Linked DNA regions of Homo sapiens: all the other regions are linked to region 2. The links come from fine-mapping of genetic effects on gene expression. A gene starts in region 2. Each other region holds a variant in brackets. All regions are shown on one strand. Distances are between the middles of the regions. Region 1 overlaps APBB2 (amyloid beta precursor protein binding family B member 2). Region 2 holds the start of NSUN7 (NOP2/Sun RNA methyltransferase family member 7). Region 3 overlaps APBB2 (amyloid beta precursor protein binding family B member 2).

Region 1 (10,557 bases), 67 kb after region 2:
GCTTCCAGGCAATGGCCTTGTGTCGAGTCATCTTACAAGTGTCCATCTTGAAATCATAAAGTGGATTTAAAAAGAAGTAGCAGTGCCACAGTTTATCACCAAGAACTTATTTTAATGGAAATGGGTCTAATGTCCCTTCATGCAACAAGACAGATGAACAAAAAACAATGGTCCTAATTAGCTATGAGTGATCTTGTATCCAGGTGGAAACAAAGGGCATGTGTACATGTATATATCTCTTAGATGAAATCACACATGTTGTGAAGGGTAGAAAAACGAAGCACCAAGCAGTGCTTTAGTCTGCAAAGGAAAGTTTTTAGCCATAGGCATGTTGGCTAGTCGTTCCCCTTGATGTTGCCAAGGAGCAGATGTATGAGGTGGCAAGTCTGTGTCTATCTAGCTGCTTTTAAAAAATAAAAGGAACTTTAAGCATTTTGCCTTTTCTTCTACATATCCCAATAGAAATGTGACTACAAATCATTACAAAACCACTTTTTAGGCAATGTATAGTTCACTGAGATTACTTAGATCTGGATACACTGGGAGATAATATCCAGGAAAGATAATACATTAACACAATAATGCAGTATATTTCAGTAAAAATAGAATAAATAAAATAAAAATATTTTAAGCTGTATTTAACAGGTTAATTAAAAATATGGTAAGACATAGAAGGCATCGTGAACATGGCTGCCTGTTTACCGAATCACAGATCTAAAGAATGCATAGATAACTGAAGTGTCACTAAGATATCAGGTAAAACATTGGCATCCTTTTACAAACAAATACACACATACTTTCATACATACTTTTTGGCCATGGCAGAAAGTGTCTGAACATACTCTTTAACATAATTTTACAAAATTAATTTGCATTTACTATACAATGCCATTTTCAAAACAAAACGTCTGCAAAGTTTTCAATATGTAAAGGCTATCATTCATCTTAATGCATCCTATAATTGCACATATAAATCAGTTTGCTACTTAAAGCTAGCTCAGAATTCTTGATCTTGAAAACAAGCAAATGTATGCCTTAAAAAATGAAGAGGGAGTTCTGGTAGAGATTTCCAATATAAAAGTGGGTAATTTGTTTAGAATTTTGAAATTTATCACACTAAAATGTTTCACTACAGCGACCGAGATGAAAGATCACTGTAAATGATTTCTGAACAGCTTTTCAAAGGGCACAGCAAGGATTTTCTTAATGCAGTAATTTCTTATGATGGCACTGGTTACTTCAGATCAGTAGTATGTCAATTGGTGAAAAACAGACTGCGTTTCTAAAGTAGCATAGTTTTGTCATAACATTGGGGTGCTAAGACAATTCCGGTCCCCCTGTCCCCCACCCCTCATGAATTCTGAGGGAATGGCAGGTAGAAAAGCCACCCACTCATTCCATCATGATCTCTGGTGGCTAAGTACCATGAGTTAGGAATGTCTACCACAAGTAGCATCTGGAAAATCTCGTAGATGGAACAGGCTGTGAATGTAGAATCCTGCCCTCTACAACACTTTTGAGGCACGCTGTAGGAAAACAGTCCTGGACTTAGATAGGGCACCATCATGAATACCACTGCGTAAGGAATTTGGACATCTTTCTCCCACTCGTGTAGGGAATTCTAAGATTCCCTGACAATAGATCTTTCCATACCTGCTCTTCTTAGTATATGCCCAGAATCATTCTGGAAAGGCTCTTCCTGACGGATATGGAGGCAGCACAACACAGCAAGAACGGGCTTTGGGAGCCGTGGGTCCTAGTCCTGGTTTTCATGAACTTTGGTGAGATCTTAGGCCAGTGGGTTTAGCCTCTCGGTACTTCATATTTTTACTTCTAAAGTGTATTTAGTACCTTCTCTACCTGGTAAGGCTCAGATGTGATAAGAATGTGGAAACCATTTTGACAAGTACATAGCAGTGTATAAACATAAAGCATTACTTTTATAATTGGATGTTGTAAATGTTAATTTTGACATTAAGAAGAAGTAAACAAGACTAATATTGAGATTGATCGCCTTAGCAACTTCCTTTTAAAACGACAATGTCAACGAGAGTCTAAATTTGTATGTCTTTCCAGCTAAGTTTCTCACCTACATACGAAGGAGCAGGAAAATGCTGTTTTGGGAAACTTGTTAAACAGTCCATTACTCCTGTGTAGACTTTGCTCAGGTATGAACATTTCAAATCTTCAAAGTAAAATGGAAAAAATATAAATTAAAAAATATATCTAGTTGAGTCCAACAAATTCTAATATTAAATACATAAAATCAAGGAAAGGTTCAACCTAATGTAATTTGTTGCCATGGACAATACATGATGGACAGACAGCTTTCTGGGCAAAAAGCATCAGAGGGGGATAGAGCTGGATGCAGAATTCCAGCAGAACGTTTACCTCTAGCACATGGACTAGCAAAAATCACACGGTGGTAGAAATCTAAAATAATCGTGCATGATAGAAATATCAATGATATTTCCTCAACTTCAAATTGCATATCAGCTAATTCTCAAACTAAGGATGAAAGGCTGATGAGGAGTATTTCATCTTAATGTTTATGTAGAGAATGGCCATAGTGAACTATAATTCTCTAGCTGCACCGTACAATATAAGGCAGAAGTTTGAAATATGTCCCACCCAAAATGCATTATGATTTTATTAATCTCTTTTAAAAATAATCAGTTTGAAAACCATCGGAAAAGAAAGGCTATGTTTTGTTCGATTTTAATTCCTCGAATTTAGTTTTTCATCAATTTTGAAGTTTCATTTTTTTCCAACATCCCACAAACAGCTGTAGACATGAAATGGTGTCCATGTGTCAAAGAGCTTGTCAGGGAAAGCTGCCAGTTGGTTTCTATACTGATGCCAACAGCCAATTTTGTCAACCAACAGGTTCAATTTTATGAAAAATTAAAACACAAACTCGCCATCCTATTTTTACAGCAATTCAATGGTATCTGCTATGCAGTGCCTACTCCAATGTTGAAAACAGGGCAAAGTGCTGTAGGACTTAAAGGTTGCTTGTGACAGGTCCAGCCAAGAAGACAGTGAAACTAACTCACGCATCATTCATTCCAAGGACGCAGCGTTAGTTCACTAGGAGGGGTGGGGCCACACTCTTCTCTGTGTGTGTGTGAAGTTAAGTAATGTTCACAATATTTACAATAAGAAAAAGACCTTCCACTGCGCATGATGTAACTTACAGCAAAAAAAATTATTCATGCTTCTTTTCATATCACATGATGGTGGCAAGACGAGAGAACATGCTTGTCTAACACTGCTTGGTTAAGGGTAAATTCTCTGAAGACAAAGCATCAGCAACTGGATGGAAGGTCGGATGGCGGAGTTCATTTTCTTTAGTGTAGCTAGTCAATCTTCAGGTAAATAGCCGAGTCCTTTTGCATGTGCAGCTATGGCATTTCGGTGACAGGGCGTTTCTGTTTCAAAGTGTCAATGAGGGATAAGACCCCTCGTTTTACATTGGTTGTGACTCTTCTGGTTACTGAATCTGCTGGCGGTGGAGGTGGTCGAACTTTCTGAGAAGGCGGCCTGGCTACCAAGCACTTCTGATATCGTAACTGAAATAAAACAAAACGTGTTTTAAGGTAATTAACAACATATTATTTCATCTTTAATATGACTTTAAGTCATGACCCATAATACATTGACTCCCAAAGGTTAACGACCTAGTTCCTAAACATAAATCCAAGAGTTATTTTTCTCTGAATGTGAGTGCTTTAAATTCTCCTAAAAGATTAGGCTCAACAAAGGGGTTTTGGCTTTTGCCACCCTTTCCTTCCATCCATTTCCACCCTCCACGTGTCCTCTATATTGATAGTCCGCAACGAATACACCTCACAGTCAATGAGCTAATGAAACCAGAAAGGATTGGGAGAGAGTGTGTTAATTACATTTTTCATCAGAGACATGCAAATCTAGGCAGGTGCTCATGGTACACTGACAGCACAGTAGAAAGGGCATAGTTTAAGGTCTATCACTTGTGAACCCCAGACGAATTATTAAATCTCTCTGAGCCTCAGTTTCTTCAACTGTAAAATGGCTGAAGAAAGGACTATTTACAGAGGGTGTTATGATTAAGTAAGTAATACTTGTAATGCTTGTGGAATGCCTGAAATAGGCCTAGCAACACAGAAGGCATTCAGAAATGTTTGTTTCCTTCCCTATTTCCTGTTTTAATTAAAAAGATGAGGTATTAAGATTTCAAGATACATGGTACATACAAGTCTAAATCTTTATGGATTAATTTTTAAAAATCCATTAGCACTGGCACCAGGGATAATTCCTGTTCTTCAGAAATATAACAATGTAGTCCACCTGGTTTTGCATAATGGGAAGATAACTAATTCTTTAAGATTAGATAAAAAGTTAAAATTTATCAAATTTTTTTTTTTCTAATCCAAACGTTTTAAAATACAGTTGACCTGGCCAGTCATGGTGTTTCACTCCTGTAATCCTAGCACTTTGGGAGGCTGAGGGAGGCGGATCACTTGAGCCCAGGAGTTTGAAACCGGCCTGGGCAACATGGTGAAACCGTGTCTCTACAAAAAATACAAAAATTAGCCAGGTGTGGTGGCACATGCCTGTGGTTCCAGCTACTTGGGAGGCTGAGGCGGGAGGATTGCTTCAGACTGGGAGGTCAAGGCTGCAGTGAGCTGTGAGCATGGCCACTGCACTCCAGCCTGGGCGACGGAGTGAACCCTGTCTCAAAATAAATAATGAAAAAAAAATACAGCTGATCTTTGAACAACAGAGTTTGAACTGTGCAGGTCCACTTATATGAGGATTTTTTTTCAACCAAACACAGATTGAAAATAGTATTCCTGGTATGCAAAACCCAATTACTCAGAGGGCAGACTTCTCCTATGCGTGGGTTCTGCAGGACCTGAATATGTAGGATTTTGGTATACTCAGAGGTCCTAGAACACCTCCACCCCGCCCCACGTATACCAAGGAAGGACTGTCACTCCATGGCTTTTTTAAAAAAAATCAACTTAAATATTAACAGGCTCTTTAGTAATGGAATAGGCTGATGTCCCTGTAAAAAGCAAGACCCTGGGGGAAGGATATGGTACAGTGTTCTATCATACCCCTTAGGCCACAAAACAACCCCTTTCAAATCAATCATATGAAATATGATGATTGATTACACGTCTCCTCTGTGTAAGGTATTTTACTAGGCCCACATCACAACCCAAACCACACACATCGAAAGCACGGATTTATACATGGCAACATGGGACTCTGGACTTGGAATTTCAAATAGTAGTCACGTACATCCAGTGTGAATCAAAACCACACCTAAGTGTTGGAATTCATAAAGGGTCCCTCTCTGTTCTATTCTAAATTTTGCCAAAATGTCTTCTGTTGGGCCTATACCACACAGCTGTAAAATATGCCTAAAAATTAAGCAGATTCAAAAGAACGTTAGTGTCAATAGATATTCACATGGTATAAATTCACATACGGACCATTCAGAGGAGAATCATGCGGATTTGAACTAAGAAGAAAGCCCCTGAGCTAGAAACACTGGATTCAGAGCGGGCAGGAGAGAAGAATGGTTTGATTTTACTAGTATGCCTTATACTAGATTGGCTGAGCTGTGTCCACTCGTTGCAGTGATACAATTAAAA[T/C]AGGAAGCAAATGAGTAAAAGTTGTTTCCAAGAGGGAAAATGAATTGAGAATCAGAAAACCAACTGTAGCCAAAGAGATAAAACTCATTGTCGTTATCACTTAAACGTATAATTAAGTCGGAAAGCCATTCATTTTATGACTAAAACCATCTGCTATGATCTGTTTCAATTTCATAAAATACCAAAATAGTTGTCATCCATTTTCGCTTGGCTGAAATCTCCCATTTTCTATTTTCTTCACAGATCTCCTTTATCTCATCAACTCCCTGTACCTGGTCAGTGGGTTCACCTGACTCCTCTACTGTCCCTGCTCCCCTGAACCCCAGCCCTGCTCCTGCATATTCAGGGTGTCTGAGTTAGAATCCTGGCCCTACAGTTCTTGCAGGGAGTTAGCCACTCTCACAGAGGATGGTGTAAGTGTGACACCAGATAACAAGTGTTCAACGCCAGGCCTCCCCTTCTCCCTCCTTCCTGCTCTATTTCAAATGATAAAGGTCAAATGCCTCTTTTCTACGCCCCACCTTTGCAATCTGCTCTCCCACCTCATCCTTTTAACATTTTTATTAGACATAGGGCCTTTCTATGTTGCCCAGGCTGGACTTGAACTCCTGGGCTCAAGGGGTCCTCTCATCTCAGCCTCCTGAGTAGCTGGGACTACAGGTGCAAACTTTCCCTTCATTCATAACCTCACAATGTGCTGTATGGGGTGGGGGGGCGGCGGTCAGAGAACTCCCTTTCCTTCCCCAAGCTCCACCCATTCTTGGTTCTTAGCATCTTCTGGACTATGTCAAAGTAAAAGGTCTCTCTAACTAATTCGTAGGCTAAGTCCCTCCCCTTGGCTCTCTTTTTTTTTTTTCTTTTTTTTTTTTTTGAGACAGGGTCTCACTCTTTCACACAGGCTGAAGTGCAGTGGTGCAATCTCAGCTCACTGCAACCTCCACCCCCAAGTTCAAGCCATCCTCCCACCTCAGCCTCCCTGAGTAGCTGGGACTACAGGTACATGCCACCACGCTCGGCTAATTTTTGTATTTTTTGGTAGAGATGGGTTTCACCATGTTGGCCAGGCTGGTCTCAACCTCCTGACCTCAAGTGATCCGCCCGCCTCAGCCTCCCAAAGTATTGGGATTACAGGCGTGAGCTACTGTGCCCAGCCTCCTCCACTCTTTATCTACCTCCATTTTCCACAAAAGAAAACCTAGCTGGGCATGGTGGTGCTCCCCTGCCGTTCCAGGGAGGAGTTCAAGACCAACCTGGGGAATATAGCAAGATCCCATCTCTTAAAAAAAATAAAATAAAATAAAAATAAAGAATAAAAAAGGGGCAGGCCTCTCCTGTCCTGAAATAAACACATGAACAAACCCTCCAATGCTGCCCTTCAAGCTCCCCCTCACTGGCAAACTTTGTAAGTTATCTGCTTTTAGGGCCTCCACTTCTTTTTCTTCCCAGTTACTTCTCAATCCAGCACAGTCTCATACTTATTTTTCTTATTTATTTTTTTGAGACAGGGTCTCGCTCTGTCACCCAGGCTGGACTACAGTGGTGCCATCGTAGCTCACTGCACCTCGACCTCCTGGGTTTGAGCCATCCTCCCACCTTAGCCTCCTCAGAAGCTGGGACTACAGGCATGTGCCACCACGCCCGGCTGAAAGTGAAGATCCTCATACTTTTATTTACAGCACTTTCTACACTGTAACAGAGTTTAGGTTTCTGTGTCTCCCCCACTATACCTGAGCTCTACAATGCAAGGACTGTATCTCAGTCATGCTGAATGCCCCAGATTCCAGCCCGTAAGTGCGAGGCTGAATTAAATGAAGCCCAGGGGCTTCACATGCAGCAGTTCTCCCCCAGCCAGGCAGCTCGGTGCTTCTCAAAGCCTCTGCTCCTGTTTGTTCCCAACGCTGCTCTCCTAGCGTGGACGCTCCTCCTCTCTCCCATCTGCAGAAGGTAACTGGGCTCCTGGCTGATCGCCACCTCAGCCTTGTTCCTCCAACCTATCCTCTACTTGGTTGTCTTCTTTTTTTGCTGGATACTCGTCTAAAATCTAAATACAGGCTGGGTGCGGTGGCTCATGCCGGTAATCCCAGCACTTGGGAGGCTGAGGCGGGTGGATTACCTGAGGTCAGGAGTTTGAGACCAGCCTGGCCAACATGATGAAGCCCCATCTCTACTAAAAATATAAAAAATTAGCCAGGCGTGGTGGCAGGTGCCTGTAATCCCAGCTATTTGGGAGGCTGAGGCAAGAGAATCACTTAAACCCAGGAGGCGAAGGTTGCAGTGAGCTGAGATCGCGCCATTGCACTCCAGCCTGGGCAACAAAAGCAAAACTTCATCTCAATAAATAAATAAATAAATAATCTAAATACAATCAATTCAATCCCCAGTTTAGCAATCCTTGCTGAAGAAAATCAGGCCCCCACACGCCATCATCATAAGCCCGCCATGATCTGGACCGCACCTCCTTCCACTCGGGCCCAGCACCCAACCTGCTGCTGCTGGAACACACCTGCCCACAGGCTTTGGTGCCCACACTCATATAGCTCCCTCATTTTTTTTTGAGATGGGTTTCCCTCTTGTTGCCCAGGCTGGAGTGCAATGACGCGATCTCGGTTCACTGCAACCTCTGCCTCTCAGGTTCAAGTGATTCTCCTGCCTCAGCCTCCCGAGTAGCTGGGATTACAGGGATGCGCCACCACGCTGGCTAATTTTGTATTTTTAGTAGAGACAGGGCTTCTCCATTTGGTCAGGCTGGTCTTGAACTTCTGACCTCAAGTGATCCGCCTGCCTCAGCCTCCCAGAGTGTTGGGATTACAGGCGTAAGCCACCACCCCCGGCCCAGTTCCCTCATTTTTATTAGAACTTTTGCAGTGTCTGGCATAAGAGGGGCACAAAGACACATGCTGAAGGAATAATGAGGGATTCTTGTTTGTTTCCAAGTATCCATGTGGTATAAAGAGCTCTGACTTTGTCACCTGGCAGCTTGGGGCTGAATCCAGGCTCGGCTCTGTCACTTACCGACAAGCCCTGAGGCCCATTCTCTAACTTCCCTAAAGTCTCTATTTTCTCATAAATAAAACAGAACTAACAACTACCTAACAGAGTTGTCGGAAGGACTGAGTTAACAGATATAAATAAAATATATAAGAACGGTGTACAGAAACCAATCACTGGAAACAAAAGTCATTCAATGTATTGATTTTTAAAGTACTGAATTGAACCCAAACAGTACCAACTCATACACGACCAACATTTCACACATGAAATTGATTTGGGATCAAGGATTGACCGTCGTCAAGGTGGTGGTTATGAAACTCATCGGAGCCTCTATCTGGCCCCACTTCTTTCAGGAGTTCTGGCCTTTGGAGATGTAATCTGTTTATCATAACTGATTCTGGCCCTAGGAATGACGGCGTTATAAAGTAAAGCATTACTTTAGGGATTCGACTTTTTTCATTTCCGTGAGTGATTCTGCTATAATGTATGGCATATTAGAGATGAGCAGAGGCGGGAGGGCTCAACAGCCTGTACCGGGATAACTCACCATGCAGGCGGCCTGCACCGCCTCAGACACGTTACCAGCATTAGGCTCGCACCAGAAAACGTGGCACTCAAAGCGCTGGTTCCCCGTGTCCATGATGAAGGCAAATGTGTGGACGTCCTTCCCAACACCCATGAAGGACAGGAATCGCACACGACATTCCACTAAGACTTCCTCTTCATTCTGCAAGAGACATTATGCGGCATCCAATCAGGAGATCCCAGGATCAAGCTTAAGAGTGGCAGCACATAGGAACTGGCATTCAGAAAGTATAGCCAGGCCGAATTCAGAAAGGACCTGTGTTTTTCTCGAAAGGCGGAACCTTGCCCAAATGTCTGAAGAGGCCATCACTGCATGGCTACCCTGTTCTGGAGGTCATTCTTGCTCTGAACTACACTGCTGTCATGGGGTGTGATGTGGGTCCCATTCTCCATTATGCTACGTGGCTGTGAGTTCACTGTGGGGAGGGACAGTGCCGTCCATACTTCTTACATCTAGCCCAAATACAGGACACCTGGTGGCCCAAAACCCATTTGGCCAAGTAAACCCCCAGAGCACCAGAAAAAAGGGATTCACGGTATCTTTCTTCGTCCAGTGATTCTTACCCAAACTAAACAGCACACTGAATCACATTTCCATCTAAAACCATATAAAACAAAAAGCTGCCAAATCAACAAAAAGTTGTCAAATTGTTTTTTTCTTTTCTCTCTTGCAAACTGGTGTCCATCTGGGATCCACATGAGGCAGCGTAAAGAAATGTTCAGAATTCTTTCTCATAGGGATGAACACCACATCCTTTGCAAGAACCATATGCAAGTTTTGAATTAATAAACACATCCAAAATGTTGACTTTTGGATCATTAACATCTTGACTAATTAAATATTCACTCTAGTGCCTTGGGAGTGTTTAATGAGCAAAGTACACTAGTGTGAGAGGTCGGGAAGTTTTCTCAGGAGGAAGGAGGCTGTGGTGGTGATCTGGGTAAGGGTCGGGTAGGCAGAGGGTGGAGCATGGAGGGTGCAGTGCTTGCGATGATGCTGGTGTGGGGAAGGGCGGGACCTACTTGAAGAGGTGAGGAGAGCTCAGTGTGGCCAGCTGGAGGCAGGCAGTGAGCACCCTGCTCCTCTCTCCAGGGTGAACCGGGCAGCTGTGGGGCAGGCTGATGACTGGTGGTCTTTCCCTGGCAGGTGCTTCACAGAGGCAGAATAGAAAAGTGGGCACAAGTCTGGGCCAGGTTGCCTGGATTTAAGTCCTGATTCCATTGCTTCCAACTGTGTGATGCTGGGCAAATGACTTAGCCTCTCTGTGCTTCAATTTCTTCAACCACGAAACTGAGATAATTTGGGCTGAGGCTAATGTGGCCTCTTCTCAAGACA
Region 2 (10,557 bases):
ATTTGAGTAGTATGCAGATTTGGCATCGAATAACATTTAATCACACAGTGAGAAAGCTGCTTTATATAATGCTTTTTCAATCCTTCTGACAAGGATAAAGTCTCATTTTTGTACGAGTGTTTAACACCTCTCTGACACTGTCCATTCCCTTTTTAATAAAGAACCATCAACCTCAAGCCTGGGGACATGGCACAACCTTTTCTAGCTAGCATTTAACAGTATTGTTCTGCTTTTGTGGTGGTTGCTTTCATTTATGGCAAATAATGCTGACTTTCCATTTTTAGTTTTCAATTTAAGAAAGTGAATCTGATTTAAAGTAAAATATTGAGTAAATACTATACATGGTTGTATATGTATATATGGCAAAAAAAAAAAAAAAATCATGAAGGCAGTGCTTGAGTGACTAACTCCAGGAAACACTGTGTTGCTAGAATCTGTTACAAATGGTTGTCTACTGTAATCAAGACCTGGAATGACAACTCTCCTGAATCTTTTTTTTTTTTTTTTTTGAGATGGAGTTTCGCTCTTGTTGCCCAGGCTGGAGTGCAATGGCACGATCTTGGCTCACCGCAACCTCCGCCTCCCAGGTTCAAGCAATTCTCCTGCTTCAGCCTCCCGAGTAGCTGGGATTACAGGCATGCACCACCATGCCCAGCTAATTTTGTATTTTTAGTAGAGACGGGGTTTCTCCATGTTGGTCAGGATGGGCTCAAACTCCCAACCTCAGGTGATCCGCCCGCTTCAGTCTCCCAAAGTGCTGGGATTACAGGCATGAGCCACCGCGCCCGGCCCTGAATCTTCTTTCCCCTTGTATCCTAGGTCACTCAAACTCCTCCTTATTTGCTCTTGTCATTTTTGGCTTCTAAATATCAAGAGTGTTCTTTCTAACGGTGCTGTCTCTGAACTGCTATGGTGTGGAGTTCCATTCTTCTCCACTTGCACCACCCTTCAGGAATCAGCTTCGTTAGAATCTTCTGCATCCAAATTAAGGGAGAATTTTTTTTCTCCTCTGCAAGTGGTTATGACTCTTTGGCTAATCTTTTGGCTAAGTATTAAGAGGACACTTGAGTAGGCTACTCTCTAGCATATGTAAAGTGTTCCTGCATACCAACTTTCACCCAGTATCACAGAACGAAGTTCATCTACCTCAGGTGATGCTTTCTTGAGCATCTATTCCCTTTCATCCTCTGGGGATGTAATAACTCAGCATCTGACCGTCAGCCCCCAAATGTACCTTACCCACAAGGCCCAAATGATCCTCAAATGGCAATCCTGATGGCCTGCCCTAGTCCCCAGAGTTTCAATTGGATATAGCTTAGGTCTACAATAAAACACTTTATAAAACAAAAATAATTAAAGGCTGAGCATGGTGGCTCATGCCTATAATCCCAACACTTTGGGAGGCCAAGGTGGGAGGATTCCTTAAGCTCGGGGGACACCAGCCTGGGTAACATGGTGAGACTCCACCTCTACAAAAGTAAAAAACAATTAGCTGGGTGTGGTGGCATGCCTGTTGTCCCAGGTACTCAGGAGGCTGAGGCAGGAGGATTGCTTGAGCTACCAGGAGTTCAAGGCTGCAATGAGTTATGATCACACCACTGCACTCCAGCCTAGGTGACAGAGGAATCTGCAAAAGGTGTTGCAATGAAAATTTACCATACTGTTTCTAAGAAGCAATAACTGGAAGTTGAGTCCTGGTGTTTAAGAACACAAGTTAAGATTCTTTATGTTTCTTATGCTTTTTATATTTCTGTAACAGGCTTCATTGGAACTGGGCACCGTTTTATATTGTCTAGATCAAATTGATGCAAGTGAGCAGATGTATTTTGAATATTCACATGCCTAACATATACTAGTACTCTGAGTCAAATGCAAGAATGTTAATTTACAAATATCTTAAATATTCTACCCCCTGGGGAAAGAAAAATCATTAATTTCCTTTGGCAGAAAGCCTCAGGTACATTTTGATTTTCTCCTCATGTCTGATTTAATGCTCTGGTCATATTACAGAGTGTAACTTAAACAAAAACTACATTTTTTTTTTTTACTATCCTGCTTTCACAACAATTGAACTCATATGCCTGTCTCTATGGTTACTTTTTTACAGTGTTCACTGAAATTTAATATGCTCTCCTCTGACCCTCCCCTCAAATACATTAAGTCCACAATGAGGCTATAAACCAGGAGTGAGAAGTAAGGAGGCAGGATTATATACATGATTAAAGTAAATAGTAACCATGAATTTGCTAACCCCACAACTCTTTGCCTAAGCTCTACCTTGGGGATAGAGACTCGTTAAACCTTGTTTTCAATATAGTAAACTGTTACTTACATTGAACTATTATTAAAGAAAATAAACTCTTCAAATTATATTTTGAATGACAATATTTCAAAGTTTATAGCTAGCTATTGCCTCACATCACTGTGTACTGGGTGATGCATGATAAAATATATCATGACCTCTAAGACACCTTCCATATTTGTAATCTTCTGTGAATGTCTGTATGTGAAAGAGAGTGATATTTTGCTAGCATCTGGGAATAAAAAAGATATATAATAAAAATGAAAAGATAAAGATAAAACAAGACTATTTTAGAGTGTGTGTGTTGTGTGGATAGAAAGATGGCAGAAGGGGGGTAATGCAGGTATGTACACGAATCTTTATAACAAAAATGAAAAGGTGACAAAATACAAATATATCCATCTTTAATTTCTTGAGGGCAAGGTCTTTGATCATTTCTTTTTTTTTTGAGACGGAGTCTGGCTCTGTCACCCAGGCTGCAGTGCAGTGGCCCAATTTCGGCTCACTGCAACCTCCGCCTCTCGGGTTCATGCCATTCTCTGGCCTCAGCCTCCTGAGTAGCTGGGACTACAGGCGCCCGCCACCACGCCCGGCTAATTTTTTTGTATTTTTAGTAGAGACGGGGTTTCACCGTGTTAGCCAGGATGGTCTCGATCTCCTGACCTCGTGATCCGCCCGCCTCGACCTCCCAAAGTGCTGGGGTTACAGGCGTGAGCCACCGCGCCCGGTCAGGTGTCTGATCATTTCTATACATTCATTATTTTACTTGTAGGGCTGAACACAATGCCAGGGACACAGCAAGAATTTAATATATACTTGTTAAACGAACGAATGAATGCATGTATACATAAAATGTTACGGAATGTTTAACGTATTCCGGGGATAATGAAAGTGGGTGGATTTCTGAGAGAAGGGGTCAGGGTTAGAGTTCTGTACTGCTAATTTTTTCCCCATTATCCATTCTCTCCTTCTTCTACAGTAATAGTTCCCTTATTTTTAGCTGGACACATTTACCAGCCTCTTGGTTGCTGGGTATATGACTGAGTTCTGACCAATAAAATGTGAGCCAAAGTGATATGTGCACCTTTCAGGTCATTGAAAAATATGGGCTGCCCTCTCTTTCCCCTTCATCCTACTAACCACTGGCTGGAAATGGAAATGGCCTTAGCCTAAAGAAGGAAGGGCAAATCCCTAAGGAGGAAAGGCAGAGGTGGAATTAGGACCAGTTGTCTTTCAACTATACCAGAGTTTTTCAAACTGTGGTCTTTGGGCTGATTGCATCAGAATCGCCAGTTACCTGATAAAAATGCAAATTACTGGGTCTTAGCAACTCAAATCTCTAGGATGGGTTCCAAGGATTTTTTTTTAGCTGGAGGCGGTGGTTCACGCCTGAAATCCCAGCACTTTGGGAGGCCGAGGAGGGAGGACTCCTTGAGCCCAGGAATTCGAGACCACCCTGGGCAACATAATGGGAACCCTGTCTCTGTTATTAAAAAAAATTATTACAGACGGCGCAGTGGCTCACGCATGTAATCCCAGCACGTTGGGAGGCCAAGGCCGGCAGATCACTTGACGTCAGGAGTTCGAGACTAACTTGATCAACACGGTGAAACCCTGTCTCTACTAAAAATACAAAAATTAGCAGGGTGTGGTGGCGGGCGCCTGTAGTCCCAGCTACTCGGGAGGCTGAGGCATGAGAATCACGTGAACCCGGGAGGAGGAGGCTGCAGTGAACCGAGATTGCGCCACTGCACTCCAGCCTGGGCGACAGAGCGAGACCATGTCTCAAAAAAAAAATTATTACTATATTTTAAAAATATTTTAAAGAATGTGTAGTTTTAACAGGGACTTCAGGAACTTGTGAGTTAAAACCACGGAACTACGTCAGACTACCTCAAAAATATCCCCAAATGTTTATAAACAAAGCCAAGGGCACGCACTCAGGCCCGGTGAGGTCCAGGAACTGTGCAAGAGGCCTCTGGCTCGGAGGGGCTGAAACAGGTGTCTCCGCGCGCTGGGGGAAGAGCGACTCTCCCGGCAACAGGTAGCACCCGCCAAATCCCGCGGGAACGGCCCTCGCGCCGCGCCCCCTGCCCCACCTCCGCTCGCGGTTGCCATGAAGACCCGGTCCGGGAGCAGTCGACTGCCGGAGACTCGGGAGGCTGAGCTTTCCTCGGCCTGAGCCAGCCAGACCCCGGGCACCGCGCTCACCCCTCTTCGCCGCCACGTCCGCGAAGGCCTCACGCGCGAGGCCAGGCGAGGCCCCGAGGCGCCCACCACTTCACGACACCGGAGCGAACCGGGCGCCAGAGGCTGCGACCCCCCTGCCCCGAATCCTGCCGGTGGGAGTGGCTGCATTTGAACCAAACGGCCTTCGCGGGCAGCAGCCGTCGCCCCGCAGTCCCGGGGCTCCCAAGGGCCTGTGACCGACGCCGCCCTCCGCGTCTTCGTCCCCGAAGCCCCGGGAACCATCCGCCCTCGGGGTAAGGGAGGAGTCGGGGGAGCCGGTGACTGGGCTGTGGGGACGCGGACGGGGCTCCGGGGGCAGCTCTGCCCCCAGACTGGCTTGAGGGAAGCCGTCGGTCTCCTTGGGGCTCTTCTCCCTCCGCCGCTGCACCCCTCCTCGCTTTTTTTTTTTTTTTTGAGCGTCCCAGGCTCGAAGTCTGGGACACTCAGATGGGACGGGAAATGCTCCCTCTTAGTCTTTAAGGCCACAACGAAGGGGGCCACCCACAGGGGTGCTGCAGAAAGAGTGATTTACTGCAATCACCTTCTCTCTTCACAGAGACCATGCTGCAGATGCGAGGAAAGCCGTTTCCTGGAACATCGGAATTCTAACCCCAGGGTGAAGGACTCACGACAGGCGAGGGGCAGACATGCTGAATTCCACGGGCGAACTGGAGTTTTCGAACGAAGAAGATCCCGAGATCATCTCCCAACTCACTTCCCTGCCTCTGTCCGGTGGGAAAAGCTCAGCTGGTGTGCCCGAAAAAACGGGCTATCCGGACTCCGTTTATGTCATGGCAGCCAACATTTTTCAGGGTATTCGAATCGAAAAGTCGGCACAGAAAGTCTTAATCAAGTATGGGAATGAACCCCTGCGGTCCTTGTCCGAGTCTGAGGATCAGTCCTTTCAGCGTTTGTCTTATGAGCTGGCTTTCAGTGCCCTGAAATGTGAGTTGTGCCAGTCTGGAAGATCAACACTAAAAGAAAATAATAGCGAGAGAATTTGGGGAATGCAGCCCTCCTCCTCCCTTCCCCTCATTCACACCAGGTTTTGGTTTTAGGCATGTGCATATCTTTGGTTAATTGCAAGTGTCAAGGAATTAGGGTTCCCATGAAACTAGCTCTTCCAGCCCAGGATTGCAGATTTCCCCGTGCACTGTGTTTGTCCTTAGATCGGTGTAGTGCGCGGTCATTACATTCAACAAGGAAACAATTTATTCCAATGATCATTTCCCTCTCCCTGTATTTTTTTTTCCCTCGTAGACTTAGGGGTCTCGCTTTATTGTCTGGGCTGGTCTCAAACTCTGGACCTCAAGGAATCCTCCCTCTTCAGCTTCCCAAAGTGCTGGGATTACAGGCAGTGAGCCACCACGCCTGGCCTCCCTGTGTATTTCTTTCCATTCCCTGTGTTTACCTTTTTTGGTATTTTAGTTTATGAGCTTTCACAAATATAAAACCAGTGAGGGAGGATGGGGAGAGGAACAGAGACGGAATAAAAAGAAAAGGTGCAAAATTTAAAAAATGAATATCAAAATTACACCAACCCCAATTAAGACTATCCCATTCATAGCCACTAGCTTTAATGGGAGGAGCCAAACTTTAGTAGAACTTCCCTTTCTAATTTGCTTTCAGGGTTTGAGACTCAAGGATGGTTAGTTATCAATCTGAGGCCAAGGGTGGTTGCTCAGGCCTGTAATCCCAGCACTTTTCGAAGCCAAGGTGGGAGGATTGATTGAGCTCAGGCGTTAAAGACCAGCCTGGGCATATAGTGAGATCTCCTCTCTACAAAAAAAAATTTAAAAATTAGCCCAGTATGGTGGCACATGTCTTTAGTCCCAGATACTTGGGAGATTGAGGCGGGAGGATCGCTTGAGCCTGGGAGGCAGAGGTTGCAGTGAGCCAAGATGGTGTCATTGCACTCTAACCTGGTGACAGAGCAAGACCCTGTGGAATTGACACTAGGAAATGACCAAATATTGCTACTATGAGGAGAGCAGTCAAAAGGCTTGAAGTTGTTTGTTTTCGTACTAGCTGTGACTAAAAACTTTATGTTGGTTTGTAAACTGATTGAATGTAGTTCCAAAAAGAAGTTCCAGAAATGTTTAGAATATTAGCAGCATGGCCAAAATGATGAGCAGAAGCCTTCCTAAAGAGACACCTCAAAAAGGGCAACACTCTTTTGCATGATTTTCTTAGTACTTAATGAGCCTTGTACATCCTTGCTCGTAGGAGGCAGTTAATTACTCAGTTCAGCCAGATGCGGTGGCTTACACTTGTAATCCCAGTACTTTTGGAGGTGGAGGTGGGACGATTGCTTGACTTCAGGAGTTCAAGACAAACCTGGACAATATAGCAAGACCCCATCTCTATTTTTAGTTTTATTTTCTATTTTTTTGAGATGGAGTCTCACTCTGTCGCCCAGGCTGAAGTGCAGTGGCACAATCTTGGCTCACTGCAAGCTCCGCCTCCTGGGTTCACGCCATTCTCCTGCCTCAGCCTCCTGAGTAGCTGGGACTACAGGCGCACGCCACCATGCCTGGCTAATTTTTTGTATTTTTAGTAGAGACGGGGTTTCACGGTGTTAGCCAGGATGGTCTCCATCTCCTGACTTTGTGATCCACCCACCTCAGCCTCCCAAAGTGCTGGGATTACAGGCGTGAGCCACTGCACCTGGCCCCCCATCTCTATTTTTTAAAATTAAAAAAAAATGCTCAGTTGAATTAAAATGTCTCACTGATTATTTAGACAGGAATATATATTTTTGGTTGTCTGCAGAGAGTCTCTTTGTTTTTTGTTTCTTTGTTTTCTCCTCAGTAATTTTTCTTTTCCTTTTAAGTCCGTCTTAACCATTCTTCCTCCAGTTTAATCTCTGAGATTTTATTTCATCCATCTTCTTCCCCTCTCCCCTAACCAAAGTGTTGTATTTCATGCAATGAATCAAATGAACATTTTTATACTTTTTTTCTCGCAACAGTGAAATGCAGACTGGGCAGCTGTGTTGATTAATTGGCATTTAATGTTAATGCTAGAATTTTATTCTAGGCAATTTGTTCTCCTAATGGAATATTGAGTATTACCTTTAGTACTCAATAAGAAAAGCCTGAATTATAATTCTATATAAAATTAATGCATTAACTAAATGATTGTATTACAGTGATATGTGTGATAGATTATTATTTTTGTCCTCTCCCTCCTATTTTCTATTTTATGAAAGATCTTGTAATTATTTTATCTTTCTTTTTTTTTTTTTTTAGACAGAGTCTCACTCTGTCACCCAGGCTGGAGTGCAATGGCACAATCTAGGCTCACTGCAACCTCTGCCACCCAGGTTCAAGCACTTCTCTGCCCCAGTCTCCCAAGTAGCTCCCAAGTGGCACCTGCCACCACGCCTGGCTAATTTTTTATTTTTAGTAGAGATGGGGCTTCACCATCTTGCCCAGGCTGGTCTTGAACTCCTGACCTCGTGATCCACCTGCCTTGGCCTCCCAAAGTGCTGTGATCTTTCTTAATGACACAGAAAATCCCATTCAAATAAATTGTCATAAACCTTTATGAAACTTCTTTTCTTGAAACGTTCGTTTTTATAAGTTCAAATTATAAGGTAAGATGGTATTGTTTACTTGTTAAATATATTTTTTCTTATAATAATACGTTGATATGGTTTGGCTGTGTCCCCACCCAAATCTCATCTTGAATTCCCACGTATTGTGAGAGGGACCTGGCGGGAGGTAATGGAATCATGGGGACAGGTCTTTCTTGTACTTGTTCTCATGATAGTTAATAAGTGTCATGAGATCTGATGGTTCTATAAGGGGGAGTTTCCCTGCACAAGCTCTCTTCCCTTGTCTGCCGCCATGTGAGATGTGCCTTTCACCTTCCGCCATGATTGTGAGGCCTCCCCAGCCATATGGAACTGTAAGTCCATTAAACCTCTGTCTTTTGTAAATTCCCCAGTCTCGGGTATATCTTTATCAGCAGCATAAAAATGGACTAATACAACAGTCTTGCTTTAAATTATCAGTAATTCTTGAATGTGCAAATAGAATAAAATCAGAATTTTATGTAGTGGATTTTCCAAGATAATTAGGAGCCTGCTATTTTCCTTTTTTTTTTTTTTTGAGACAGAGTCTTGCTCTGTCACCCACGCTGGAGTGCAGTCAATCGCGCAATCTCGGTTCACTGCAACCTCTGCCTCCCAGGTTCAAGCAATTCTCTGCCTTGGCCTCCCAAGTAGCTGGGATTACAGGCACCTGCCACCATGCCCAGCTAATTTTTGTATTTTTAGTAGAGATGGGAGTTTCACCATGTTGGCCAGGCTGGTCTTGAACTCCTAACCTCAGATAATCTGCCCACGTTGGCCTCCCAAATTGCTGGGATTACAGGTGTGAGCCACTGCAACAAGCCATCTGCTATTTTACTTTTAAAATATTGGAGGCTCTTATGCATTTCACTTTTATCTTCTGTATTATCAGTGTTCTGTCAATACTTTCACATGTGATATTTTGTAAACTTACATCTGGCTTATACAGTATAAGTTCAAGGAATAATGATTCAGAAAAGAAAACTCAGAATTTCTTCCCTAAGATTTTATAGGAGCTGTAAAACTGCAAAGGTTATTGTGAAAATTAAAGAGAGCTTGAGTAATGGTCCCTTTTGTTTGTGAATTTGTGAACAGGTAATTAAATCACATTACCATAATATTTAAGGAGTAGGAGAAGAAAAACAATAACAGAAAATCTCTTAATTATACTAATGTTAACTGTATTCCTTTGGTTGTGTCTTATGCTTTTCAGTTTTATTGTTTGTTCCTTTGCTGATGTCCTTCATTGTATATAAGATCTTTCAAGACAGGAAGTATATTTATCTGATTAACCTTTTAAAGATTTAAAGCGCTCCGTAAAATGTTTTTTGAAATGAAGAGTGCCATTATTTCTGCTTTACCAAATAACCCCAAGGTCAATTTTCTGCTAACGAAGGTAGAATTACTAATGAAAAGTTGCCTATTCCTATTGAGAGTTTTGTCAAAGCAGTAGAGTACCAGTAGCCAATTAATTAATTAATTTATTGATGGAGTCTTGCTCTGTCGCCCAGACTGGAGTGCAGTGGCGCGATCTCGGCTCACTGCAACCTCTTTCTCCCAGGTTCAAGTGATTCTCCTGCCTCAGCCTCCCTAGTAGCTAGGACTACAGGCACATGCCATCACGCCCGGCTAATTTTTTGTATTTTTAGTAGAGACGGGGTTTCACCATGTTACCAGGATGGTCTTGATCTCCTGACCTTGTGGTCCACCTGCCTCGGCCTCCCAAAATGCTGGGATTACAGGCGTGAGCCACCGTGCCTGGCCTAAAATTTTTTTTTAAATAAAAACCTGGCAATTTTTTTTTAAAGAAATGAACAAACAACAAATTTAAAAAAAAATTGGAGAAAGAGATATCCCTGAAATTGCTTATCTTTTTCCTGGCTTCTTTCTCCACCTTCTCTAGGTTTATATTTTTGTTGCTGAACTTCGAATCCCAGGAACTGATTGTAGCATTAACCTGGTGATTTCAGAATCATATAATCTGTCAGTGAGAAACAGTAAATGCTTAACATATGGTTTGGTTATAGCTTTTGCGAATTAGTAACTGTAGTCAGGGGTTCCTAAGACCACCTCCAGATTCAATAATTTGCTACAAGGACTGACAGAATTCAGCAAAGCTGTTATACTCATGGTTATAGTTTATTACAGTGAAAGGACAGATTAAAATCAGCAACAAGTAAAGGTACATAGGGCAGAGTCCAGGAGAGACTAGACGCAAGCTTCCTATTTTCCTTTCCCAGGGTGGTCTATGGAGAGCGCTTAATTCTCCCACCAATGATAAATAACAACATGAATGAAGCATTGTCAACTAGGGAAGTTCATCTGAGCCTTGCTGTTTGTTTAGCATTTTTATTGGGGGGTCAGTTTTGTAGACAAGGTGCAGTCGTGTGGCTGGCTGACCTTAGTTATTCAGTCTCTAGCTTCTTCAGAGACCAAGCCGATACTGTGT
Region 3 (10,557 bases), 120 kb after region 2:
GAGAAAAAACATTCAAGTGTCTAAAAACTTAGGTACCAAATCACGTTATACATCATTTTGGGGGAAGACATCATTCTCTGGCAATAAACCGCTCACCCATGAAATGAAATAATCCTTCTAGGAAAGAATGATTCATTATTTAATAAACATTTGTCTGTTTTTGACTTCACTAAGAAAAATAAATGGGAGGAAATGCTCCAGGAATCTCAACAAGCAGCCTCCTCTGCCTCCAGCCCACTGTGCCCACCACTGCCAGTGCAGATGAGGGAGGGCAGAGTGAGGGGCAGCGCAGAGGGAGGGACAACATTCTCTTCTGAGTGCTCACCAGGGGACAGGGACCCGTGCCAAGCCCTCTCCCATTTAATATCTTACAACCAAGCTGCATCGGGGTTCCAAAGCTTCCATCTCTACACAAGAGGGCCCTGGGGCACAGTGTGTAACTGGCTCAGGGTCAGCCAGCTAACAGAGGCAGATCAGGAAGCCAACCGGTGTGCCTCACTCCAAAAGCCCTTTCATTTAAGAAGTCATATAATCTGTACCACCTAGAGGAGAGACAGCTGGGTGAGGAAGATGGAGGAGCAAAGCTGGGTAGCAGAAGGGGCTTCCACTGCCCTAACTGTAGAAGGCTGAAAAATATCCCAAAGAAATCAGGTCCTAATCCCTGGAACCTGCAAATGTTACCTTATAGGTATTATATACATATATGTGTGTGTGTGTGTATACACACTCTTTTTTTTTTTTTTTTTGGAGACCAAGTCTCACTCTCACCCATGCTGGAGTGCAGTGGCACGATCCCGGCTCACTGCAAACTCCGCCTCCCAGGTTCAAGCGATTCTCCTGCCTCAGCCTCCCGAGTAGCTGGGATAACAGGTGCATGACACCACACCCAGCTAATTTTGTATATTTAGCAGAGATGAACTCCCCACCTCTGGGGATCTACCCGCCTTGGCCTCCCAAAGTGCCGGGATTACAGGGGTGAGCCACCACCGCGCCCAGCCATACATATATATATATGTGTAAGTGTCTCTCAGAAGGACACTTATGACTGGATTTAGGTCCCACTCAGGTAATCCAGGATAATATCCTCAGGTCAAAATCCTTAACTTAATCACATCTGTGAAGACCCTACTACCCCGCACCCGTTTATTTTTTTTGAGACAGAGTCTCACTCTGTTGCCCAGGCTAGAGGGCAATGTTGCAGTCTTGGCTCACTGCAACCTCCACCTCCTGGGTTCAAGTGGCGATCCTCCCGCCTCAGACTCCTGAGTAGCTGGGACTACAGGCAAGAGCCATCATCCCCAGTTAGTTTTTGTATTCTTAGTAGAGACGGGGTTTTGCCACGTTGGCCAGGCTGGTCTCGAACTCCTGGCCTCAAGTGATCCGCCCGCCTTGGCCTCCCAAAGTGCTGGGATTACAGGCATGAGCCACCGCACCCGGCCTCAACTCCTTTTCTGAAGTTTCCTCTTCCTTCCCTCATGTGGGCCTCTGCACAAGGTAATTGGAGTGTCCATATTAACAGCTAAAAGGAGTAGGAACACTGACCCATTAATTTAGAATTCATGGTTTCAGACACGGTTCAGCCACATTTTTGTATAAAACTGATTAAGTCGTGTAAAAGTTCTAGGTCTCAGTTTCCTCATCTGTAAAAGGGACATAATGCTACACCCTGTAGTCCTGAAAGGACTAATGGAGATAGACCCTCAGTAAACCATAAAGCATTGTGTCAAAACATGCACAGAGTTCTGATTATTCTCCCCTCATTCTCCCCTTCAGATAATCAAAAGTACTTTTAAGCATCTAATATAAGGATAACATCATGTTGAAGCACACACAAGGAAATCTAAGATATGGTGATGGCTGTCAAGGAATTCACAGTCTAACCAGGGAGACACACATCTGTGACATTAGTGACAACCCGAGGTTGAAGAGATCTAGTACAATGAATATATGCATGACTACAGAGCTGAAAGACAGCACAGGGCATGGTGTGCTGTGAAGATTCACTCCCATTTGTAGGGGTGGCGTATATTTCCCCAACCCTTGAAGTGAGGCGCAGTTACGCATCTTGCTTTGCCAATGAAATGTGAGCAAAAGCGCTAAGCATCATTTCCAGCAGAAATGTTCAGTCAGCGCATCTTTTCCTTCTGCCACCATTGTTGCCAATATTGTAGTCTAGATTGTGACTTTATCATCAGCTTTAGACAGAGAATGAGGACAATGACAAAGGAAGCCGTGTCTTCAGCCAACCCACCATGGACTTTTAGCAGAAAGAATTGTTATAAGCCACTGAGATTTTTGGTTGTTATTACAGTCTAACCTAGCCTGTGCTGAAGGACACGAACGGTGACAGAAAGGCTAACAGAACAGGTGGGACCTGCACTAAGTCCTAAGGATAGGGATGTCACATAACACTGGCATAGGGCTTGACGGTCATGTTAGAAAGTGCTTCATGGGACTCATGAGCCCATGTCATTACCTGTCTGTTCCTCTTAGCACATCCCATGAGGGCAAGAACCATGGCGTTCTCATTCATGGCTACATCCTTGGTGCCAAGCATGGTGGCAGACACATGCTAGGGACTTAACACATGGGTATCCAATAAATCCCCAGAAAGCTAGATGGGATCAATAGAGGAAGAAGGAGGGAGAAAAGGAATTCTACGGCTTGACATCTCAAGTTAGGAATGAGGATGATGTGGCCTTGGACATGAAGAAAGCCAACTTTACAGATCACTGTAAGATACACAGGAAGAAATCTGGTTAAATTATAATGATAAAGGTTAAAAAAAAAAAAGATGGCGCCGGGTGCAGTGGTTCACACTTGTAATCCCAGCACTTTGGGAGGCTGAGGCGGGTGGATCACCTCAGGTCAGGAGTTCGAGACCAGCCTGGCCAACATGGTGAATGCCCATCTCTACTACAAATACAAAAAAATTAGCTGGGCGTGGTGTTGCGTGCCTGTAATCCCGGCTACTTGGGAGGCTGAGGCAGGAGAACTGCTTGAACACAGGAGGCGGAGGTTGCAGTGAGCTGAGATCATGCCACTGTACTCCAGCCTGGGCGACAGAGTGAGACTCCATCTCAAAAAAAAAAAAAAAAAGATGGTACCGTATATGGATGATGACAGCCATTTCTATCCTCCTGCCCTGGTTAGCATACTTCTGTGGTATAATCTGCTCTACCAGTTCTGGGGCCTAAGAGAATGACTGACAATGTTATGATTAGAAGTGACCCAAGATTTGACAACTTAAGATCTATATCTCCTCTCTTTTTTAAGAAGCACTCTAATTTGTACAGTGTAGACATATTTAAACCTTATCTTTTATTTAAAAAAAATTTTCCCTCTTAATTTTCAATCCTTGACTTAGTGAATTTAATTAATAGTATCAGGTTTTATCTTTCTTAATAAATAACTTCTACAGCTTCTCTTACGTCAATGAAGAAGACAAAGCAACTCTTAAGCTCAACGCTGTACAGAGATGAATCAGAACATTTCCTTTAGGCAAGAAGGAGCTGAGACAATTATGCTAGACCACTGAGTTTGTGGGGGAAATATATTAAGAAATTTCACACCGTCCACTAGCTAAAATGCTTTTAGGAATTGCTGCTACTCTTCGCAATGAGATCGCTGGTGGTGGAGGAAACTGGTTTGGCAAGCAAGTATCTTTAGGGCTGAGGTGGTTCTGTGCACTATTATTCTCTGATTAATGGGGAAGGCCACGGGTGTCATTTGGATAGGTCAATAAATATTAATTGGCTGTAGGGATAGATTTTTAACTTTGTGTTCTTTTAGTTGCTTAGGGATTTTACAGGGGGAAAAAACCCGCAAAATACTCCTGTTTTAGAATGCATAGCATTTCCCAATTATTGAATAATAGAGAAGTCAGAGAAAAAATCTGTATTTTATACACTCATTGGTTAATGGGGCATTACAATTGAACTCTGTTTATTTATCAAAATTTATATCCTATTTCCTTCCCAAAAGAATTAAGTGGCTTACAATAAAAGGCACACACAGTCTATTATGTTCTAAATTTAGAAAAGTAAAATTTAAAGCCAAATATAAGGAAGAGAAAGTAATTCTATAAATTAACGAGGCGAAATATTAGTTGGAACCACATTCAACCATTTCTGATCCACAAAAACAGCAATGTTATATGATTCTATCTGATTTAATTACTGCAATTGCAGGTTTAATTTAACTTGAAACTTCCTAGCAAAAAGGGAAACATGATAAACTATACTATTTTCCCTGTTAACTAAATTCTTACATGCATATCCTTTGAGAGACAATATTTTCTAGATACTGAAATCTAAAAGAAATCTGCATTTCAGTTTTTTATCCAAGGGCAATTTAACAATATAAAGGACGTCTTCAGGGATGATATTACCAAAGAAGTAGAGATTTCCTTCCTGGGATCATCACTTACAACTGTATTGACTGAATGCAATGGAAGTGCTGTTCGTAAGAACACAACACTTTTCAGAGAAGGCACAGGAGGCGGGGGCAGGGCGGGG[G/A]GTGGAGATAAGTAAATGAAAGTCTGAAACTCTAGCTTTGTTATCCTGTCCCCTGATACAATGTTATCATTCAGAATCCCTAGAACAGTGTTTTCTGACCTGGTGGGTCCCAGAACTGCTGGCCCTCTGAAGGTTCGCCGTTAATGAAGCCAATAATATGTCTTCTGCTCATCTAGTGTTGACTGCGGGACAGCTCAGACCCTTCAACAGCTGAGGGTGTGTTTTAGGGGCTTTCTCTGAGAATAGAACATTGCATACAGTGTTTCCCAAAATTATGTGAGTGTGGAATCTCTTTTTCTTTAAACACCAGTTACTAAGCTGGTAGAGTGCTCAGCTCAAAAACTTCTTAGAAAATTTGACTGAGATCAGTATTATTCAAACTATGACCAATCAGTGGTCACAAACAGCGTTTTAAAAGTTAAAAGAGTAGTAAAGAAAAAAAATCAAAAAGCAGGGCACACAGTGCAAGTCAGAGCTGTTGTGTGACATTTTTGGTAGTTAAGTGTGTGAAGGCACAGTCCGGTGCAGCTGGGTAAGTGCCTGGCTCAGCTGTGCTGCCTGGGATGGGGGCAGGCAGGGGTGAGACCTGACATGTCACATCGTGGGGTTTGGCTCCATCCTGAGCAGCAGGGAACATGTCATGTCTTTTTACCCATCAGAAAAATCACTTGGGTTGCTGATTGTCAAGGACACAGACAGAGATGGGAGTTAAAGATCAGGGGTGGACAAACAGGTATAAGAAGTAGTTAAGAAAAATTAACCAACACTTGGAAATAAGACAAAAGGAGGACAGTGTGTCTTTCAATGTCACAGTAGAGCAACACTTAATGGACCCTCCTAAGGATTACTTACTTCACTAGGGGAGTCCCGTTCAACAGAAATACAATGCAAGCCACATTAAGTAATTTACAATTTTCTAGTAGCCACATTAAACAACTGGAAAATGGAAGTGAAATTAATTTCAATATTTTATTTAAGCTAATATGTCCAAAATACTATCATTTCAATGTGTAATCAATATGAAATTGTTATGAGACATTTTACATCTTTTTAATACAATGTTTGTGAATTCTGGCATGTATTTTACACTTTACAGCACATTTCAATTCAGACCAGCTACATTTCAAGTGCTCAAGGCCATCACCGAAATGAACAGCCCAGCTCTAGGGAAATGTATTTTTATCTGACTTTGCTAGTGATTAGGGCTCAGACTCTGGGAGAGTAGTTGTTAATTTGTAGAACATTAATATGTTACAAGTAATGTTTGCAACTTTCTGCTAAGAAAAAAAAAAATAACCCCAAAGGTGAGGATTTCATTGCCAGTAGAACATTAACCAGTTTTGTATCCACCTTAGTCATCTATTCTAGTATTTTCTCTTTTCCTCTAGCTGCTGTTATGATCTGTGTTATGCCTTTGGTTTCAACTGTTTTATTAGGCTGTGTCTAGGCAGCAGTACATGTGTGTTTGTGTATGTGTGTGATTCTTCCTGGCTTGAGGTTTTTTGAAACCTTTTCAAATTCTTGAAAGCACAAGTGCTTCCTGGTGGCTTGGTTATCAGGTTTAGAAGATTCTCAGCCTTTCTTAGGTTCCTTTGAACTGGTGTTGGTAGCCAGCTCATGAGTTAAATAAATCTTTGGCATGCACTCACTGCATATTTTAAAACTTTTATTTTAAGCAACCTTATTGAGTATAATTGATACACAATAAACTGCATATATTTAAAATATCCAATTTGATAAGTTTTGACAATATGTACCTGTGAAACTATTACCACCATCAACATAATGAGTATATCTGTAACTCTCAAAGATTCTTCCTGCCTCGTTATAATCCCTGCCTTCTGTCCTTTCCCAGGTAATCACTGAACTGCCTTCTGTCACTACAAATTAGTTTACCTTGCATTTATAGAATTTTACATAAATGCAATCACACACTACCTTTTTTTCTGGTCTGGCTTCTTTCACTCAGCACAATTATTGTGAGATTCAGCACGTTGCTGTATATACCGTTGTCGCTTGGTGTCTGCAGGGAATTAGTTCCAGGACCCCCAACGATGCTCAAGCCTCTTATATAAAATGGGACAGTATTTGCATATAACCTATGCACATCTTCCTGTATACTTTAATCTCTAGATTACTTATAATACCTAATACAATGCAAAACTATGTAGATAATTGTTATATTATTTTTAAAAACTTGTATTATTTTTCATTGTTGTATTTTTTTCCAAATATTTCCCATCTGCAGTTGGTTGAATGTGTCGATGTAAAAAATCTGCAGATATAGAGGGCCGACTGTATCAACAGCTGGTTCCTTTTCACTGCTGTGTGGATATCTGTTATACAATATACCATGGTCTGTTTATCTATTTACCTGCTGATGGATATTTGAATCATTACCCACTGTCAATATGACAGCCTGTTTTTAACTCTGACCTAGGTATTAAGGAGGTAGACTCTTTAGGGCTGACCACCACTATGGGTGGGGAGGACCCACAGGAGCAGGGTCGGGGGCTCCCACACTGCTGACCTGTGTACTACATGGCAGAGCCATTAACCACAGTGGCTCAGCATAAGTCCAGTGGATGAACACATGCCGAAATGAGTGAATGTATGAATGCAGAACACGGGAGAATAAATAGAAAGAACAGCTTTGAAAATGGGGTCAGGAGTCTGTCTTGGCCAACGTGGAGTATAACAGATTTGCCTTGGCATCCCAGCAGAAAGCTGTTACCCATCTGAGAGCAAAGGTGGCCTAGCCTAGGTTAGCCAAGGTTGGGCCATACCCACTATTTACACCCTCGTGGCACGTGGTTAGGAAAGAGACTTCTCTCAAAAGACAACTCAATTCTTTGGAGCTCAGATGCTGTTTATGGACTTAGGGGATGACGTGTGCCCTCTCATCCTTGTTCCCATCCTCATTCCAGGTCTGTATAAAGGCAGGTCATGTAGGGGTGGGGTGCTGAGGGCCAGGGTCAGAGGGGATCAGATACTTTCAATCTGAACTAAATCTCTATTTCACAGATTTGGTAATCAAAGAAGGGTCAACTCTTTGAAAAATGGCATTAATGCCTTAATCGGTGCTATATATAAAATTCCTGCAAACTCATCCTGCTGTGCCCTGTTTAGTTCACCTGCTGGGACAGACCTGGTTTTAGGACCTCACAGGAACATTTGATTCTGTGAGTTGAAGATTGAGACTTGCAGTTTTCTAGTGTTGCTTCCAACAAATTCACTCAGGAGCTCTCCTTTAGGGAGGAGGCAAGAAGGATTTAGGGATCAGGGAGGTAGGAGCCACGTGTCATGAACTATTGTCCAGTGGCAAAGTGACTCTTAACTCTATCATGACCTGCCACACCCCGGGCAGAGCAGCTCAGGGTACAGGGCATGGGGCTCGTGAGCCCTGCCTGAAGATGGCTCTCCAGTGGGCAGGGTGCTTGGTGCAGAGAAAAAGCAGCCCTTGAAAATGCAGCTGGAGCATTTTCCTAAAGGGGCAGACTTGGCAAGACAGGGTGGGTGGCTGAGCATTAGAGAAGCAATCAGGCCGGACTCGGTGGCTCACGCCTGTAATCCCAGCACTTTGGGAGGCTGAGGAAGGCGGATCACTTGAGGCCAGGAGTTCAACACCAGCTTGGCCAACATGGCAAAACCCCATCTCTACTAAAAATACAAAAATTAGACGGGTGTGGTGGCACATGTCTGTAATTCCAGCTACTCAGGAGGCTGAGGCATGAGAATCACTTGAACCCGGGAGGCTGAGGTGAGTTGACATCTTGCCACTGCACTCCACCCTGGACGACAGAGTGAGACTCCATTCCAAAAATACCAAACCAAACCAAAACAAAACAAAAAAAACAAAATAAAAGAGAAGCAATCAGAAGCTTATCTAATGCACTGCCCGCAGAGAGAAAGGCACCTGTGTCTGCTTGGCTTTGTCCTCCCCATCACGTTACCTGCCTGTTTGCCATGTCAGCATCCATCTTCATCCACTGTGTCCCTGCCATGCCCCCTGTCCGGATCTCCCTCAGAGACTGTAACTGTGCCCCCTAACTCATCCTCTCCCGCCTCAGGACTTTCAAATGTTTCTTCCTCTTTGGAGTATTTCTGGTATAAAATTTCTGACTGAATGAGAACATTTTCTGGGTTTTATTTTTCTTAGTCTCCCCTCCCCCATCACACTCTTCTAGATGAGTGAATGGTGTCAGAGCCCGTCTGTCACCCACTCTGTGTTCCTTTATTTATAGCCTTGATGATTCTTCCAGGGTTTGGAGAGGTTTATTCTTTCCATTTTAAGTCAACTCTCTGGCTCCCTTCTTTTTCTTTGGCCCCACGTCTGATCTGGCATTTCCGTCCTCTGGCTGCCATGACCGCGCCTGCATGATTCTGTTCCCAAGAGCTTTTTACTCTTGGAAATTGGGTTCTTGCTTGAGGACTCTGGGTTCAATTTCCTAATTCTTGTCTTTGATTTCCTTTCCTGTCTTCCCTTTTCAAACAAGCACATCCCTAGGCCACTTTTTGGGGAATAGCCTAGAAGAACAGAATTCCCAGTTGAAGTTATAACAAAGAAACATGAGACCCAGTGCCTGAGCCCAAAGTGTGGGTGCTGCTCCGAGGGACTGCAGGGAACATAACTCTACTGTCTTCTTATCTTAAGAGAGAGCAGTGTGCAGGAGGAGACTAGAACGTGGGACCTGGAAGGAAACTGGTGCAGCCTCACATGGACTCACAGAAGCAGGAACTCTTGGCTCCCAAGTGAACAAGACTTTTTCAGTCCACCCAAAGGCTCAAGGCTAGCTGAAAATTCATGACACGATAATTCTCCTACATTCTCATTTTTCTCTGTTAAAATATAACTCCTCTGAACACAAGCCATTCCAAAGCTTGAGTTCACAGCTCTGATACTTAAACACCAATTCTGACTTCATAAGAGGGTTAGAAAAATACAAAGCCATTTTGGGGGGCTCTGAACAACAATTTTAGCCTTTGAAGGGCAGCATCAAATAGCTCTAGGGAACTCTATGAAGAGTCACCAACTCGTTAGTTGAGACTCACTATGAACTAGAGATAATTTCTAGATATTAAAAAGACAGAATAATACTAAGCTCTCATGTTAAATTTCTCCTTATTTTTAATAATATGTTACGGTTGACCCAGGACAATATTTTTTTTCTTTCTTTTTTTTTTTTTGAGATGGAGTCTCACTCTGTAGCCCAGGCTGGAGTGCAATGGCACAATCTCGGCTCACTGCAACCTCTGCCTCCTGGGTTCAAGTGATTCTCCTGCCTAAGCCTCCCGAGTAGGTGGGATTACAGGCATGTGCTAACACACCCAGCTGATTTTTGTATTTTTAGTAGAGACAGGGTTTTGCCATGTTGGACAGGCTGGTCTCGAACTCCTAACCTCAGGTGATCTGCCCGCCTCAGCCTCTCAAAGTGCTGGGATTACAGGCATGAGCCACTGCACCCAGCAGACCCAGGACAATATTTCAAGGAAATATTACTATGTTAATAAAAAGAGTGTCACTGGGAGCGATGGCACTTATGACCCTTGCATGAAAGGACCTCCATATTTCAGCTACGTCAGTGATGATCTCCAGTGCGGATGGAGACAGTGGCACACAGAGCGCCCCTAACATCAGTGCAAAGGAAGAGGCACAATTACATTGCAAATGGTGAGATTCCTACTCCAGTGTTCCTTCTCTTGACCTACTCTAGCTCTCAAAAACTCGACACAATGAGACTCCTTGAGTTCCACCTGATGTTCTCAAATTCTTCTTTCCCAGTGACGAACTGTGCTGCACTAAATTCATAGTCACTGGACTCCCCAGGAAACCAAAAATCTCAGGATGATGACATTTGAGTAAAAAGGTTCCAGGTGACAACTCGTGTATGAAAAGTGGTGACTGCACCTTCCTTTGCAACAAGAGGCTTTTAGCAATTCTTCAAGCACCAAACCATGCACTGAACATCTGCATAAGTTCTGGGTTATCATGGTTATGACTTCCTCTGTTCTCAAAGACATTCATCCATGTTTACATGGG

Evidence for each region. PIP is the estimated chance that this variant, and not a neighbour inherited with it, causes the effect. A credible set is the group of variants that fine-mapping cannot tell apart.
Region 1: its variant is the best candidate, but not a certain one, in a credible set for the expression of NSUN7 in whole blood (TOPMed, PIP 0.66).
Region 3: its variant is the best candidate, but not a certain one, in a credible set for the expression of NSUN7 in aorta (GTEx, PIP 0.70).

What each region holds. Positions count from the first base shown.
Region 1 is chr4:40,812,688-40,823,244 of GRCh38, forward strand. It overlaps APBB2 (amyloid beta precursor protein binding family B member 2), which reads right to left. Exons shown (of 18, transcript NM_004307.2): 17 at 9,184-9,363; 18 at 1-3,572. The coding sequence ends at 3,405. Among named protein-coding and RNA genes, the nearest start is that of NSUN7, 68 kb to the left of the region's middle. The variant T/C (reference allele first, on the strand shown) is at 5,646.
Region 2 is chr4:40,745,516-40,756,072 of GRCh38, forward strand. NSUN7 (NOP2/Sun RNA methyltransferase family member 7) reads left to right here and starts at 4,440. Exons shown (of 12, transcript NM_024677.6): 1 at 4,440-4,785; 2 at 5,088-5,476. The coding sequence starts at 5,179.
Region 3 is chr4:40,870,006-40,880,562 of GRCh38, forward strand. The region is part of intron 12 of APBB2 (amyloid beta precursor protein binding family B member 2); the gene reads right to left. Among named protein-coding and RNA genes, the nearest start is that of NSUN7, 130 kb to the left of the region's middle. The variant G/A (reference allele first, on the strand shown) is at 4,518.